2 separate regions of the Homo sapiens genome follow, and region 1 is linked to region 2. A link means that fine-mapping ties the variant in region 2 to the expression of a gene that starts in the linked region. Tissue or cell type: whole blood. Region 2 holds a variant in brackets; the other region holds the start of a gene. All regions are shown on one strand. Distances are between the middles of the regions.

Region 1 (8,106 bases), 64 kb after region 2:
CTCCTAAAGTGCTGGGATTACAGGCGTGAGCCACCATGCCCGGCCAAGAAATATGTGGTCCTTTTACTTTCCCAGTGAAATGGTTCAGTGATAAGTCTGTGGGGGGAAAAAAGGCTCAGTGTGAGGTAAGTATCAATCAGCACCTTCTCACTTCCTTCATCTCTTTTTCTTGAGACAGTCTCACTCTGTTGCCCAGGCTGGAACGCGGTGGGGCAATCACGGCTCACTGCAGCCTCTACCTCCCCAGCTCAAGCAATCCTCCCACCTCAGCCTTCTGTGTAGCTGGGACCACAGGCACATGCCACCATGTCCCGCTAATTAAATTTTTTTTTTTTTGGTAGAGATGGGGTTTTGCCATGTTGCCCAGGTTGGCCTCGAACTCCTGAGTTCAAGTGTTCCTCTCGCCTCAGCCTTCTGAGTAGCGGGACAGGCATGCACGCCTAGCTAATTTTTTAATTTCTCGTGCAGATGGGGCTGTTCTGAACTGGCCTCAAGCGATCTTCTTGCCTCAGCTTCTCAAAGTGCTCGGATTACAGGCAAAAAAAAGCCACCACACCCGTCCTGATTTTCAGAATATTAAGTAGCTCAGTTTCAGTATTCCAGAGTTGGTTTTTACACAGGTAGGACGCTAGATTATTCCTATGTAACATGTAGATAAGGCATTGATAAAATATATCATATGTGGCCTGGCAGGGTGGCTCACGCCTGTAATCCCAGGACTTTGGGAGGCCATGGCAGGCGCATCATCTGAGACCAGCCTGGCCAATGTGGCAAAACCCTGTCTCTACTAAAAATAAAAATAGAAAAACTTAGCCAGGTATGGTGGCGGGCGTCTGTAATCCCAGGTACTCGGGAGACTGGGGCAGGCAGAACTGCTTGAACCCAGGAGGGAGAGGTTGCAGTGAGCCGAGACTGGGCCACTGCACTCCAGCCTGGGTGACAGAGTGCGGCTCCGTCTCAAAAAAGTATCATGCTATCTCATATCAAGTATGTGTAAGTGATGTGCCAAACAAATTGCTACTGGCAGGCTGAGGTATGCGGACCACTGGAGCCCAGGCTGCAGTGATCATCATGCCTGTGAACAACCACCGCACTCCAGCTTGGGCAACAAAGCAAGACCCTTTCTCTAATGGAGTGTAGGGGAGGAGGAAGAAGAGGAGGAAGGGAATTCAAGAACCCAAAGTTACCGGGTGCAGTGGCTTACGCCTTTAAAATCCCAGCACTTTGGGAGGCCAAAGCGGACAGATTGCTTGAGCCCAGGAGTTCAAGACCAGCCTGGGCAACACGGAGAAACCCATCTCTACAAAAAATAGAAAAATCAACCAGGCATGGTGGTGTGCGCTTGTGGTCCCAGCTACTTGCTTTTTCTTTTCACTGGGCAAATGAATGTTGAGAAGAAAAACTAAGGAAATACTATATATAAGGAATAATTGCTCATGTTCAACTCACCGTTTCCTCAATTTAAAAAAAGTGTGTGTGTGTGTGTGTGTGTGTGTGTGTGTGTGTAAACGGGGGGCTCTCACTATGTTACTCAGGATGGTCTCAAACTTCTGGGCTGAAGCGATCCTCCCGCCTCAGCCTCCCGAAGTGCTAGGATTACAGGCCTGAGCTACCGTGACCGGTCCCCGTTTCCTCAACAGAGGTTAAAAAGCTCGTGCTCTGGCCGGGCACGGTGGTTCACGCCTGTAATCCCAAAACTTCGGGAGGCCAAGGCGGGCGGATCACCTGAGGTCAGGAGTTCGAGATAAGCCTGGCCAACATGGTGAAACCCCGTCTCTAACTAAAAAAGATACAAACATTAGCCAGGCGTAGTGGTGGGAACCTGTAATCCCAGCTACTCGGGAGGCTGAGACAGAAGAATCGCTTGAACCCAGGAGGCAGAGGTTGCAGCGAGTGGAGATCGCGCCACTGCACTCCAGCATGAGCAACAGAGTGAGACTCAGTCTCAAAAAACAAACAAACAAACAAACAAAAAACAAACACGTGCAGTCTCAAAAAACAAACAAACAAAAAACAAACACGTGCTCTGGAAGAGGCAACCGAATGCGCATTAGAATCCCCCTAGCATTTAGTCACGCGTTCTTATTTCATTTTTTAAAACAGCGATAATACCAACCAAGTAGAATTACCAAGAGGATGAAATTGGGTAATGTTTGTAAAGCATTCCACACAATCCCTAGCATATTAGGAGTAGCCTGGGAGAGATGAGCATTCTCTATGTAACACAGAAGGCCCGAATCCTCTGGAGAGTTAAGGCCTCTCAATTAGCTGTCAGGGGACCAGCAGGCCACGCCACATATTTTCCTTATTTGGCAAGTCTTCCATTTTCAGTCTTTTCATCCACAAAACCGAGATGGATGAAAAATGCCTACGAATCCGCCGTTCTTACGTCCCAGGCTTGTCGTGAGGATCAATGGGACAAGCGGCGTGAACCGACCAGGGCCCATCAAGTCCGAGAAGCCCCGGGGGGCATATGGAGGGACGCCGGCCCCCTTAACGGGCCCAAGGCCGGGACTGCGGCCGCCCCCGCCAGTACTGCCCGCCGGCGCCCGACACCCTGAGCAGGGCTCGCTGGTAGGCCCAAGGATGCCCAGGACCACACCCTGCCTAGCACTCAGGCAGCCCCAAGGCCGGCACCCGCTCACCTCGGCCCGCTCCGGAGGAGAGGGAGTGGTGAGAGGAAAGGGCGCCCACCTGAGGGCACAGGAATCTTCTAGCGAAAAGATCTACTCAAGGCTGGCACAGCCGGGGACACCCTTCGCCCCAACCGGCCGGCGTGGGCCTGGCGGGGACTCCCGCGCTCGGGGACGCGCCTGCGCCTCTTCGCGGAAGGGTCGGAGCTGCGCGGCTCCGAGGACCCGTCCCTCCCCCCGCTCCTCGCCCAGCCTCTCCCGCGCTGACCCGCGGGCTGGCGGCCCGAGCGGCGACGGGACGCGACGGGGAGCAGGCTGCTAACGGGCCTCCGGCGCCCACGACCGCGCAGGGCCCGCGAGGGGAGAGCGCGCCCCGGCGCCGGGAGGCCACGCACGCACATAACGGGGCGCCCGCTGGCCCTCACCCAGGATCTCCCGGCGCCGGTCGGCGTGCGGCTGGTCGGTGTAGACCCACTCGAAGTCTTCCCGCGAGACGCGGCTCCCCATGGCGACAGCGGTGGCTTGCAGACTAGCTGTCGGCTCTCGCTCCCAGCCGGCTGCTCAGAGGTGGCGGCGGCGGCGGCGGCTCCCCGGCTGGTGTGGTGTCGGCCGGCTGTGGCGGAGCGCGGAGGAGACGGAGGCGTGGGCGGAGTCCCGAGGCCCCGCCCCCCCCGGCCCGCCCGCCTGCCTCTCTGGGTGGAGGGCGCGTGGCGCTCCCAGGCCCCCGTGCGGGGCCGGCTCTCAGCGATTCTGGGACGCGGGGTTCTGAGCTTCGGTGACTCGGCCACCATCCAGGATGCCGCGTTCTTGCGAGTGCCCGCCCCTGCGGCCTGCTGCGCCGGAGCCCGGAGAAGATGAAAAAGGAAGGAATGGTCTCAAGTGAGATAAACCTGCCGCCCTAACGCCTCCGCGAGGGGAGCACCGGGCACGGCTACGGTCACACCGAGTCTGGAGGCCCCGGAGCCCTTCTTAAATGGCAGCTGGCCTAAGTTTTGTTTAATTTTTAAAAAGCAAATTAGCCATTGAGTCATATTTCGCTGCCTTCTGGAAATAATACCTCAGGGAAAAAATGCAGAGTGCGTGACAATTAAAAGCTAATCAAGTAAAAAGAAAACACCATTATTAAGAGGGGGTGATGATGTGGGATTTGTTGTTGTGCTTGAATTATTCTAGTGTGACCACTTCTGTTAAGAGATGATTGCTCAACCTTGCATCTACCTGTCGCAGAAGTAATCAACCACAACCTCTTCCTGAAAGAAAGGTTTTGAAACGAAACTAATTTTGTTTCAACATTAGTTACCACGTCTACATCAAAGAGCAACTTAAAGATTACAAAAAGAAGATAACCAAAGCAGGTGTGCCTCCTAGTCAAAGAACATGCTGTGCACGCGCACACGGCACACACACACACACAAATCTGATCGAGCCCCTAGATCTGACTGTTAATTTATAGAAAATAGAAAGGACATTTGGCCGGGTGCGGTGGCTCACGTCTGTAATCCTTGCACTCTGTGAGGCAGAGGCGGGTCCATCACCTGAGGTCGGGAGTTCGAGACCAGCCTGATCAGGATGGTGAAACCCCCGTCTCTACTAAAAATATAAAAAAATTAGCTGGGCGTAGTGGCAGGCGCCTGTAATCCCAGCTACTCAGGAGGCTGAGGCAGGGGAATCGCTCGAACTGGGAGGCAGAGGTTGCAGTGAGCTGAGACGGAGCCACTGCACTCCAGCCTGGGGGACAGACGGAGACTCCCTCTCAAGAAAAAAAAAAGAAAATAGAAAGGACAGAGGAATGTGTTAAACTAGGCCGTGGGGATGAAACTAGCAAGATCCAACTCTGGGAGACTATATGGGACAATGTCTGGGTTCTCTAATAAATGAAACTCAAGGCAAAAAAAGAGAAACCTGTAGATTAAAAGGAGTTTAAAAGACATACCAACCAATTGCAACGTGTTGACCTCATTTAGATTCTGATTGAAATAGTTTAAAAACATTGACATGAAATAATTGAACTCAGATATCAATTGGATATGTGATGATATTAAGGAATTATGAATTTCTTAAGTGTGATAATAGTATTATGGTTATAGTGGGTTTTGTTTTTTTTGAGACAGAGTCCTGCTCTGTTGCCCAGGCTGGAGTGCAGTGGTGGCCTCATGTCTCACTTCAGTCTTGACCTGAGCTTAAGCCATCCTCCCACCCCAGTCTCCCGAGGAGCTGGGATCACAGGCGTGCACCACCATGCTTGGCTACTTTTTTGAATTTTTGATAGAGATGGGGCCTCACCTTGTTGCCCAGGCTGGTCTCAAACGCTTGGGCTCAAGTGATCTCAAAGTATTGGGATCACAGGCATGAGCTACTACATCCGACCCCAGGAGCATTATTAATAAGTCCCTAAGACCCTCTCAGTACATTCACTTCTGAAATAGAGAGGGCCAGCACGGCTGAGACATCTAGCAGAGAAGGCTGTGAGAGCAGAGGGGAGACAGAACAGTGACACCTGGAGTGGAGGCCTGAAGGCTGATCAGAGCCCAGCGAGGGTCATGTCTGCAGGGCATGCTAGCAAATGCGTGGCTGGGTCAGCCTCCAGAGGGTCCCAGTCTCGAAAAAGGAGTGGGATTTGATGATGGATAGATACACAGGTCTGATCATGCAGGAGCTTTTTAGTTGTTAATGAAATGGTGGAGGAAAAAGAAGGTGGGGAGTGTCACCTGGAAAAGGACAGCTTTGTATTTGCCAAGTTTCATCTGGATTGGCAGATGGCACATGAAGCTGATAATTGGACTCAACTCAGGAGGAAGTTTTCAGGTGCTGACAAGTAAATGTATCCCTGCAGTTCAGAACGCAGTTGCTATCACAGGCATGTGTGAACTGGCACACCAGTCCAAAAGGTGTGCGGAGGCTTACGTCTGTAGTCTGAGCACTTTGGGAGGCCGAGGTAGGGGGATCGCTTGAGGGCAGGGGTTCGGGACAAGCCTGGGCAACATGGCAAAAACCCACCTCTATAAAAAATACAAAAATTATGCCGGGTATGGTGGCTCATGCCTGTAATCCCAGCACTTTGGGAGGCCAAGGCGGTCTCCAAGGTCAGGAGATCCAGACCATCCTGGCTAACACGGTGAAACCCCATCTCTACTAAAAATACAAAAAAAATTAGCCAGGCATGGTGGGGGGGGCGCCTGTAGCCCCAGCTACTTGGGGGGCTGAGGAAGGAGAATGGCATGAAACCGGGAGGCGGAGCTTGCAGTGAGCCGAGATCGCACCACTGCACTCCAGACTGGGCGACAGAGCAAGACTCCGTCTCAAAAAAAAAAAAAAAAAATTTAACTGGGCGTGGTGGCCCATGTTTGTGGTCCCACCTATTGCTGAGGCTGAGGTGGGAAGATTGCTTGAGCCCAGGAGGTCGAGGCTTCAATGAGCTGAGAAATGAGCTGAGATTGTGGCACTGCACTCTAGCCTGTGTGACAGAGTGAGGCTTTGTCTCAAAAACATTAAAAAATAAAAGAAAGAAAGAAAAATGCAGAGTTTGAAAAAAAATGTGAATCTGGATATACCATTTTTTTTTTCTGAGATGGAGTTGCGCTCTGTTGCCCAGGCTGGAGTGCAGTGTCAAGATCTTGGCTCACTGCAACCTCTGCCTCCTGGGTTCAAGCGATTCTCCTGCCTCACCCTCCCGAGTAGCTGGGATTACAGGTGTGTGCCACCACGTCCAGCAACTTTTTGTATTTTTACTAGAGACGGGGTTTCACCATGTTGGCCAGGCTGGTCTTGAACTCCTGACCTTAAGTGATCTGCCCTTCTTGGCTTCCCAAAGTGCTGGGATTACAGGCATGAGCACCACACCTGGCTTGGACATTCTTTTTTTTTAAAAAAAGTTACAATTCATTTAATAGCAACTGGTAATCATGAAATTTTCTTATTTTGTTTAAACCCTCTTTAAACAAAAGTCTGCAAATTAGCACTGATCATTTGCAAAAGTCATTACATATACTGCCATTTTTCTTAAGGTTGACCAAAGATAACCTAGAATTATAGCCGTTACATAATCACACAAAATGATTATATATTAATCAGACCTGGTTTATCACCAGCATTTATAAAAACAGACGTAGGGAAAGAACTAGGTCTAGGGACACGTACATGGTCTTAATATAGCGACTGTTTATCCTGTCCTGACTATTACAAAATCAATTTTGACATTCTAAAGTAAACTATTTGAGCTACAGGATTGTCATGGGCATTGATAGCTATTTTAATGATGTCTAGGCATGCTTCTTTAATTTGGACTTTTAAAAGTTCTTAATATATACGCGTAATAAAAAAGTAAGCTAAGAAGTATAGCCAGGCATGGTGGCTCACGCCTGTAATTCCAGCACTTTGGGAGGCCGAGGTGGGTGGATCACAAGGTCAGGAGTTCACGACCAGCCTGGCCAAGATGGTGAAACCCCGTCTCTACTAAAAATACAAAAATTAGCTGGGCATGGCGGTGGGTGCTTGTAATCCCAGCTACTTGGGAAGCTGAGGCAGAAAACAGCTTGAACCCGGGAGGCGGAGGTTGCAGTGAGCTGAGATTGCACCACTGCACACTAGCCTGGGCGACAGAGCGAGACTGTCTCAAAAAAAAAAAAAAGAAGTATAAATAAAATGCCTTGAAGTTTTAAAAAAAGATTCTTAATGGATTATCTAGCTTTCACATCTTTTCCTTAACCTTGTCAAATAATTTGTCTTGAAGCAAACATACTAGTTATTCTGGAAAAACGCTCTCCAGTCGGCTGTTGGAAGCTGTGGTGAATCGCAGCCAGCCATGATCATATTAGGAAATTTAAGATGAAGTAGTTTTCAGATGAGGGCAGCTGTACTTTTGAAATCAATATGGATTTTTCCTTTTCCATCTGCTTGATTTTTGAAAGGGCAGTTTATTTTTGAGGCCATTTCAATAGTGATAACAGTTGAGATTGAATGGTATTGACTACTGTAATTCATAGAAGAGTAATACAGAAAACATTCTTTATTCACTTCAAGCAAATAATCGTAAGAATTTTATGTTATCTATTTCTTTTCTTTTCTTTTTATTTTATTTTTGAGATGGAGTTTCGCTCTGTCGCCCAGGCTGGAGTACAATGGCCCAATCTTGGCTCACTGCAATCTCCGCCTCCTGAGTTCTGGTGATTCTCCTGCCTCAGCCTCCCGAGTAGCTGGGATTACAGATTCATGTCACCACGCCTGGCTAATTTTTGTACTTTAGTTTCACCATATTGGTCAGGCTGGTCTCGAAACTCCTGACCTCAGGTGATCCACCTGCCTCAGCCTCCCAAAGTGCTGGGATTACAGGCATGAGCTACAGCGCCTGGCCCAAATTCATGAATGTTTTAACTATAAATTTACATGTGCTAATTTTATATTTAAATAATACATTTTAAGTAAGAAAAATATATATTGACAACTAATTACTGACTAGAGTAGTTGTCTGTTATTG
Region 2 (8,106 bases):
CACAAAAGTGAGTAAAGGAAATGGTATATTTTTGTATATGTTTCTCTTGTTTTAAATAGAGACAGTTATAAGAGGTAGTAATTTTCGTTGACTGATTACTTTCTTTTCTGTAGCTGTGTTTGCCCAGCCTATATCTCCCAAAGGGAAGGTGAACTGATCTTCGATTATTACTTTAAAATAATTTACATCAGATCATATTTGAAATGGAGTAGAAACTTTTGGAGAAACTGGCACTTTGGGAGGGCGAGGTGAACCCAGGAGTTTGGTACCAGCCTGGGCAATATACTGAGACTCTGTCTCTACAAAAGATAGAAAAAATTAGCCAGATATGGTGGCACCCACCTGTGGGACCATGTACTCAGAAGGCTTAGGTGGAAGGATTGCTTGAGCCCAGGAGGTCAAGGCTGCAGGGAGCTGTGATCACACCACTGTACTCCAGCCTGGGCAACAGAGCAAGACCCTATCCTTTTTTTTGAGGCAGAGTCTTGCTCTGTCACCCAGGCTGGAGTGCAGTGGCATGATCTTGGCTCACTGCAAGCTCTGCCTCCCAGGTTCACGCCATTCTCCTGCCTCAGCCTCCCGAGTAGCTGGGACTACAGGTGCTCGCCACCACGTCCGGCTAATTTTTTGTGTTTTTTAGTAGAGACGGGGTTTTACCGTGTTAGCCAGGATGGTCTCGATCTCCTGACCTCGTGATCCACCCGCCTCGGCCTCCCAAAGTGCTGGGATTACAGGCGTGAGCCACCGCACCAGACCCCGCAAGACCCTATATTTAAAAATAAATAAATAAGTGGGCCAAACACGTTGGCTCACACCTGTCATCCCAGCACTTTGGGAAGCCAAGGCAGGTGGATTGCTTTGACCTCAGGAGTTCAAGATCAGCCTGGGAAACATGGGGAAACCCCATCTCTACAAAAAATACAAAAATTAGCTGGACTTCAATGGCTCATGCCTGGCTGAGGCTGGAGAATCCCTTGAGCCCAAGAAGTGGAGGTTGCAGTCAGCCAAGATCGTGCTACTGCACTCAAGCCTGGGTAACAGACCAAGACCCTCTCTCAAAAAAAAAAATTGAATGACTTCTGTCATCCCACTTCTCACTACCTGGAACTAGTTTTTCTGCCCTTCACACATCACATTTTGAGGTCTGTAGAAGTGCTTTGTTTCTACATTTCTATAGCCTTGGGATGGGAGAGGGAGCTAAGCTGGTGGTGTTAATCCTTCTGGGGATGAAATCACTTGTACCTGGACCCGCTCTCTCCATCCAGTTGGAGATACCTCCCCCCATGGGAGCTGTCCCACTCCCATGGGATTGTACCCAGTTCTGTCCAGCTCCCTGGAAAGTGGCATACCTTGGCAGTTCTTCCTGAATCTGCTGAAATCCCTTGATTGTGTGTGTCTAACTTTTTCTAGAGCTATCTTCTCCTCAGGCTGCTTGTCTCCAGCTTGGAATATTAATAGACATCACAAGATTTTGTTAACTTACCTTCTTTCTTCAATACTCCTTCCCAGGAATGGACGCCTAATTATCAGCCACTTTCAAATTTTCTCTTCGCACCCACTTTTCAACATTTGCAGCATGAAGGTTTACCCCTTTCTTTGGTTGCTACTGGTAAATTGTTTAACTTTTTTTAGTATTCTTTTGATGCTGACAAAGGAAGATTCTGTGATCCTGCCTCACTGGGCCATCGTTACTTAAAACTGCCTTTAGCAATGTTCCTAAAAATCACCCCGAGGAGGGAGAACAGGGCAGATGAGAACAGAAGAATGATCATCTTTGTAGGGTAGAAAGATTCTATTGATGCACAGTATGGAAAATAGCTTGGAAGCCAGTAAAGTAAAAGTTATGAAATTAAGCATGTTAGAACTAAGGCAATATGACTGAGAAACATCAATGAAAAAGAAAAAATAACGAACTAAGGCATTATCACGGGAATAACAAAGAAGATATAGACATGAGAACTGTTTAAAGGTTTTAATTAGTAGGACATTGGATTAACTGTAGAGTTGGGAGTTAAAGGAAAAGGTAGATGAATTTGCAGCTTGTGCAGCTGGTGGCATCTACCAGGATTAGAGGTCTGGGAGATGAGCTCTCTGAGTTTCAGGTGCCTGGGCACTATCAAGTGGAAAAGTTGAGCAGGATGTTGGGTCTGTGGTTGGGAGTTCAGGAGAGTCCTCTGGCTGGGCTATAGTTTTGTCTGTCTTCAGGACATAGCTGGTGGTCAAAGCCATGAAAACATGTTGCTTTAGTTTAGTAGTTCTCAACCTAAGGCAATTTTCCCACCACCCCACCTCACGTCCCCAGGGAACATTTGGCAATGTCTAGGGACATTTACCACTACGCAGAGGAGTGATCATGCTGCTAAATATTCCACAGTGCACAGGACAGCCAACAACAAAGAATTATCCAAGGCCAGGCATGGTGGCTCAGGCCTGTAATCCCAGCACTTTGGGAGGCTGAGACAGGAGGATCACTTGAGACTAGGAGTTGGAGACCAGCCTGGGCAACAGAGTGAGACCCTGTCTCTACAAGAAAACAAATTTTTTTTTTTTGAGACAGAGTGTCACTCTGTTGCCCAGGCTGGAGTGCAGTGGTGCCACCTCGGTTCACTGCAACCTCCACCTCCCGCATTCAGGTGATTCTCCTGCCTCAACCTCCTGAGTAGCTGGGATTACAGGCGTGCACCACCAAGCCCAGCTAATTTTTGTATTTTTAGTAGAGACGGGGTTTCACCACGTTGGCCAGGCTGGTCTCGAACTCCTGACCTCGTGATCCACCTGCCTCAAGTCTCCCAAAGTGCTGGGATTACAAACGTGAGCCACTGCGCCTGGCCAAGAAAATTTTTTAATTAGTTGGGCATAGTGGCATGCACCCGTAGTCCCAGCTACTTGGTAGGCTGAGGTGGGAGGATGGCTTAACCCCAAGAAGTCGAGGCTGCAGTGTGCCATGGTCACGTCACTGCACTCCAGCCTGAGCAACAGAGCTGAGACCCTGTCTCAAAGGAAAAAAAAGTATTATCCGACTCAAAATGTCAGTAATGCCAAAGTTAAGAAACCCTGCTTTGGTTGCATATACTTATTTCTTTGCATCAAACAAGCTTGATGATGACTGCATCATAGCATCTTCTCTCCCTTTCGTTGGCTCTGTTTTTTTTTTTTTTTTTTTGACACAGTATGTCAAAAAAAGAGACCCTGTTTGTTGCCCAGGCTGAAGTGCAGTAGCGTGATCTCAGCTCACTGCAACCTCCACCTCCTGGGTTCAAGCATATCTCCTACTTCAGCCTCCCCACGCAGCTGGGGCCACAGGTGCGTGCCACCACACTCTGCTAATTTTTTTTTTGTATTTTTAGTAGAGACGGGGTTTTACCATGTTAGCCAGGCTGGTCTCAAACTCCTGACTTCAAGTGATCCGCCCACCACGGCCTCCCAAAGTGCTGGGATTACAGGCGTGAGCCACCATGCCCGGCCTTCTTGGCTCTGTCATTAGGAACTATGGTCTTGAGATTTTGTTTGCTTTGGTCAATGTATGTGGATGTGTATGTATATACAAATAAGCACACACATATAATCCAATTTTGTTTCTATGAATTTCCTGTAGTCATGGTGACATAATGATAATGCTTTCACACTTGTCCTTGGGATTTCATGAACTAAAGAGAAAAGTTGGATTGGTATTTATTTCTAGACATGCCAGACATGAGGCATGTGGTATTCAGAGCTTTATAGATTTGGAACCAGAGAATGATTGGCTCATTCTTCCTGCTGTGTTTCATTCAATGTATGGTACTCACACCAGAACAACTTTATACTTCATTCATCTAGAATTTCAGTGCTATTTGCCAAAATCATTAGGCCTCAGACCAAAGGGTGAATATTTAAAGTACCCCACTTCGGCCAGGCACAGTGGTTCATGCCTATAATCCCAGCACTTTGGGAGGCCGAGGCAGGTGGATCACTTGAGGTCAGGAGTTCAAGACCAGCCTGGCCAACATGGCAAAACACTGTCTCTACAAAAATACAAAGATTAGCTGGGTGTGATGGTGTGCTCCTGTAATCCCAGCTACTCAGGAGGCTAAAGCAGGAGAATTAGCTTGAACCCGGGAGGCAGAGGTTGTGGTGAGCCGAGATCGTGCTATTGCACTCCAACCTGGGCAACAAGAGCAAAACTCTGTCTCCAAAAAAAAAAAAGTCATCTGGCATAAATGGGGTGGGTAACAGAGAGGAGCCCTGCAGCTTCCAAGCACAAAGTTGTGAATATGGAAGAAGAAAAAAATCAAAAAAGACATTTCAATAGAGGTCAACTTTGGCCGGGCATGGTGGCTCACACCTGTAATCCCAGCACTTTGGGAGGCCAAGGTGGACGGATCCCACCTCCCGAGTAGCTGGGATTACAGGCACGTGCTACCACGCCCGGCTAATTTTTGTATTTTTAGAGAAATGAGGTTTCACCATGTTGGCCAGGCTGGTCTGGAACTCCTGACCTGGTGATCCACCCACCTCGGCCTCTCAAAGTGCTGGGATTACAGGTGTGAGCCACCATGCTGGGCCAAAAGCAACTTTTGTAGATTGTGGTTTAGACTGCTGCATAGTCAGTCCTCAGCCTCTGTCTGTGCCAACGGCAGAAGGGCTTTTGTTAGTTTATTCTCTTTGACTTGAGAGTGCATTTTTGCTCCAATTCTGACTGTGTCCTATTCTAAGACTTGGAACCTCATTGGGCAGAGCTGCCCAGGAGGAGCAGGACCCACATGCAGCCTCCCTGTGCCCTGTCTGCCTGCGTTGGCCTGGTGCCCTCTCAAGAGAGCTGTTAGCAGTGCAATTTCACATCCTTATCTTACCTCATCCTTCAGAGGTCATGAAT[G/C]TTTTTGTTTAAAAAGCTTTGTTGATGGCTAAAGCAGGGCAGATTGAGAGGAAGAGGAAGCACAATATCTAATTTCAGAGGGGAGAAGTCACAAGGCAGACTTCCTGCCCATGTATGTTCTTTGTAAGTCAACAGAAAGTGAGGAAAATTGGCATTTTTAATGTTTACCCTTTTTATTTCAGTTTGCTGGCTTTTGACTTTAATTCCTCAGATTGTTTTATATACAATTTTCTCTTTCTCCTATTAACATCTGAAATATTATAAGGAGATTAGAATAAAGATCTTTAGTCCTGTTCTTAAAAGTCTGAAATATTTTGTAGGTCAAAGCAACTTCTTCATATCTTTTGGGATCTAAGTTTTGTAAAAGAAGAGCGAGTGGGCCAGGTACAGTGGCTCACACCTGTAATCCCAGCACTTTGGGAGGCCAAGGCGGGCGGATCACGAGGTCAGGAGTTCGAGACCAGCCTGGCCAATATGGTGAAACCCCATCTCTACTAAAAATATAAAAATTAGCTGGGCGTGGTGGTGCGTGCCTGTAGTCCCGGCTACTCAGGAGGCTGAGGCAAAAGAATCACTTGAACCCAAGAGGCAGGGATTGCAGTGAGCCGAGATTACGCCACTGCACTCCAGCCTGGGCAACAGAGTGAGACTCCATCTCAAAAAAAAAAAATGGAGACCAGCCTGACCAACATGGCGAAACCCCATCTCTACTAAAAATACAAAAATTAGCCGGGCGTGGTGGCATGCGCCTGTAGTCCTAGCTAGTCAGGAGGCTGAGGCAAAAGAATCACTTGAAGCAGAGAGGTGGAGGTTGCAGTGAGCCGAGATCACGCCACTGCACTCCAGCCTGGGCAACAGAGGGAGACTCCACCTCAAATAAAAAAGAGCGAGCCATATACTACTTTTTTATATTTTTTATTTGGTATTTCTAGTGATGATGTGGTGATAAGAGGTCTATCACTAAAAGCTGCCTGAGAAGTAGAAATTTTTTTTTTTGAGACGGAGTTTTGCTCTTGTCGCCCAGGCTGGAGTACAATGGTGCGATCTCAGCTCACTGCAACCTCTGCCTCCTGGGTTCAAGTGATTCTCCTGCCTCAGCCTCCCAAATAGCTGAGATTACAGGTGTCTGCCACCATGCCCAGCTAATTTTGTATTTTTAGTAGAGACAGGGTTTTTCCATGTTGGCCAGGCTGGTCTCGAACTCCCGACCTCATGTGATCCGCCCTCCTTGGCCTCCCAAAGTGCTGGGATTATAGGCATGAGCCACCACGCCCGGCCCCCAGATTTTTTTTTCATAACTTCTACTTCCTTTTAAGTGTCATTAAAATATCTCAGAAAACCAGAAACATTATTTGATATCTGCCAAATACTTTCAGATAAAATACAGTCTTTAAAAGAGTGACAAGGCCGGGTGTGGTGGCTCACGCCTGTAATCCAGCACTTTGGGAGACTGAGACAGGCGAATCACAAGGTCAGGAGTTCGAGACCTACTTGGCCAAAATGGCAAAATCCCGTCTCTACTAAAAATACAAAAATTAGCTGGGTGTGGTGGCCGGTGCCTGTAATCCCAGCTACTTGGGAGACTAAGGCAGGAGAATCTCTTGAACCCGGGAGGTGGAGGTTGCAGTGAGCCGAGATTGTACCACTGCATTCCAGCCTGAGTGACAGATCGAGACCTCATCTCAAAAAAAAAAAAAAAAGTATGACTTAAGAATACCTGATATAATAATAGCTAACATTTATTAAGCCCTTACTCTGTTCCATGTAGTATTTTCATTTTACATTTATACACATGCTTAAACCTTGAAACTCCCTTTGAAGTGTATGTCTTACAAAATATTTAAATATTTTCCTTTTACTGATGAGCAAACTTTTTACAAACTTTTTTGTTGTTGTTGTTGTTGAGACAAGGTCTTGCTCTGTCACCCAGGCTGGAGGGCAGTGGTGCGGTCTTGGCTCGCTGCAGCCTCAACCTCCCAGGCTCAAGTGATCCTCCCGCCTCTGCTCCCTGAGTAGCTGGGACTACAGGAACGTGCCACCAGGCCTAGCTAATTTTTTTTTTTTTTTGTAGAAACAGGGTTTCACCATGTTGCCCAGGCTGGTTTTGAACTCCTGAGCTCAAGCGATGTACCCACCTCAGCCTCCCAAGGTAGAGGGTTACAAGACTGAGCCACTACACCCGGCCCTTTCATTAATTTTTCACAGTCGACTGTGTGAATAAAAATTGCTTCATGCAGAAGCTGGATTTTAAAATAAAAAATAAATAAATAAATAAAATTACTGGCCAGGTACGGTGGCTCACACCTGTAATCCCAGCACTTTAGGAGGCCAAGGCGGACAGATCACCTGAATGAGGTGATCTCATTCAAAAGTAGCTGGGTGCGGTGGCACACACCTGTAAATTCCAGCTACTCGGGAGGCTGAGGCAGGAGAATCGCTTGAACCCAGAGGCAGAGGTTGCAGTGAGCCAAGATCGCGCCGTTGCACTCCAGCCTGGGCAACAGGACGAAACTCTGTCTCAAAAAAAAAAAAAAAAACAAGCATTAATGATTCTAAACTCTGATGTGTAGTTAAGAATAGATTTAAGAATAAATTTGGTTGGGCATGGTGACTCACACCTGTAATCCCAGCACTTTGGGAGGCCGAGGCAGGTGAATCACCTGAGGTCAGGAGTTTGAGACCAGCTTGACCAATATGGTGAAAGCCCATCTCTGCTGAAAATACCAAAATTGGCCAGGCATGGTGGCGTGCACCTGTAGTCCCAGCTACTCGGAAGGCTGAGGCAGGAGAATCGCTTGAACCTAGTGAAGTGAGATCACGCCACTGCACAGCCTGGGCATAGAGTGAGACTCCGTCTCAAAAAAAAAAAAAAAAAAGAATAGATTTGTATGACCAAATGAAAATATTTGTTAAAATAAAAGTAGTAGCACATCTTGAATTACTTTTTGAACCTGAGTATTTCATAACATATAATGTTTAATACGAATTATAGGAAAATATCAGTGTAAATGAGCCATAACTTTTTTCAGATTTTAGTAAAATACTATAGATACATAACATAAAATTTACCATTTTAGCCATTTTTAAGTATATATTTCTGTGGCATTAAGTACATTCACATTGTTGTGCAACCATCACCACTACTCATCTCCAGAACTTTTGCATCTTCCCAAACTGAAACTCTGTCCCCATTAAACACAAACTGCCCATTCCTTCTTCCCTACCCCTGGCAACCACCATTCTACTTTCTG

Evidence for each region. PIP is the estimated chance that this variant, and not a neighbour inherited with it, causes the effect.
Region 1: it holds the start of DEGS1, and the variant in region 2 is fine-mapped to the expression of DEGS1 in whole blood (TOPMed, PIP 0.95).

What each region holds. Positions count from the first base shown.
Region 1 is chr1:224,178,371-224,186,476 of GRCh38, reverse strand. It overlaps DEGS1 (delta 4-desaturase, sphingolipid 1), which reads right to left and starts at 3,237. Exons shown (of 3, transcript NM_003676.4): 1 at 3,059-3,237. The coding sequence starts at 3,140. LOC124900425 (small nucleolar RNA SNORA72) reads right to left here and starts at 6,836; the gene lies at 6,710-6,836. RefSeq lists enhancers at 1-313, 865-924, 2,398-3,227, 3,562-3,651, 3,228-4,058 and 1 more and silencers at 896-1,190, 2,492-2,571, 2,732-3,111, 3,212-3,411.
Region 2 is chr1:224,242,113-224,250,218 of GRCh38, reverse strand. It overlaps NVL (nuclear VCP like), which reads left to right. Exons shown (of 23, transcript NM_002533.4): 19 at 1-7. Among named protein-coding and RNA genes, the nearest start is that of MIR320B2, 11 kb to the left of the region's middle. RefSeq lists an enhancer at 4,516-4,565. The variant G/C (reference allele first, on the strand shown) is at 4,856.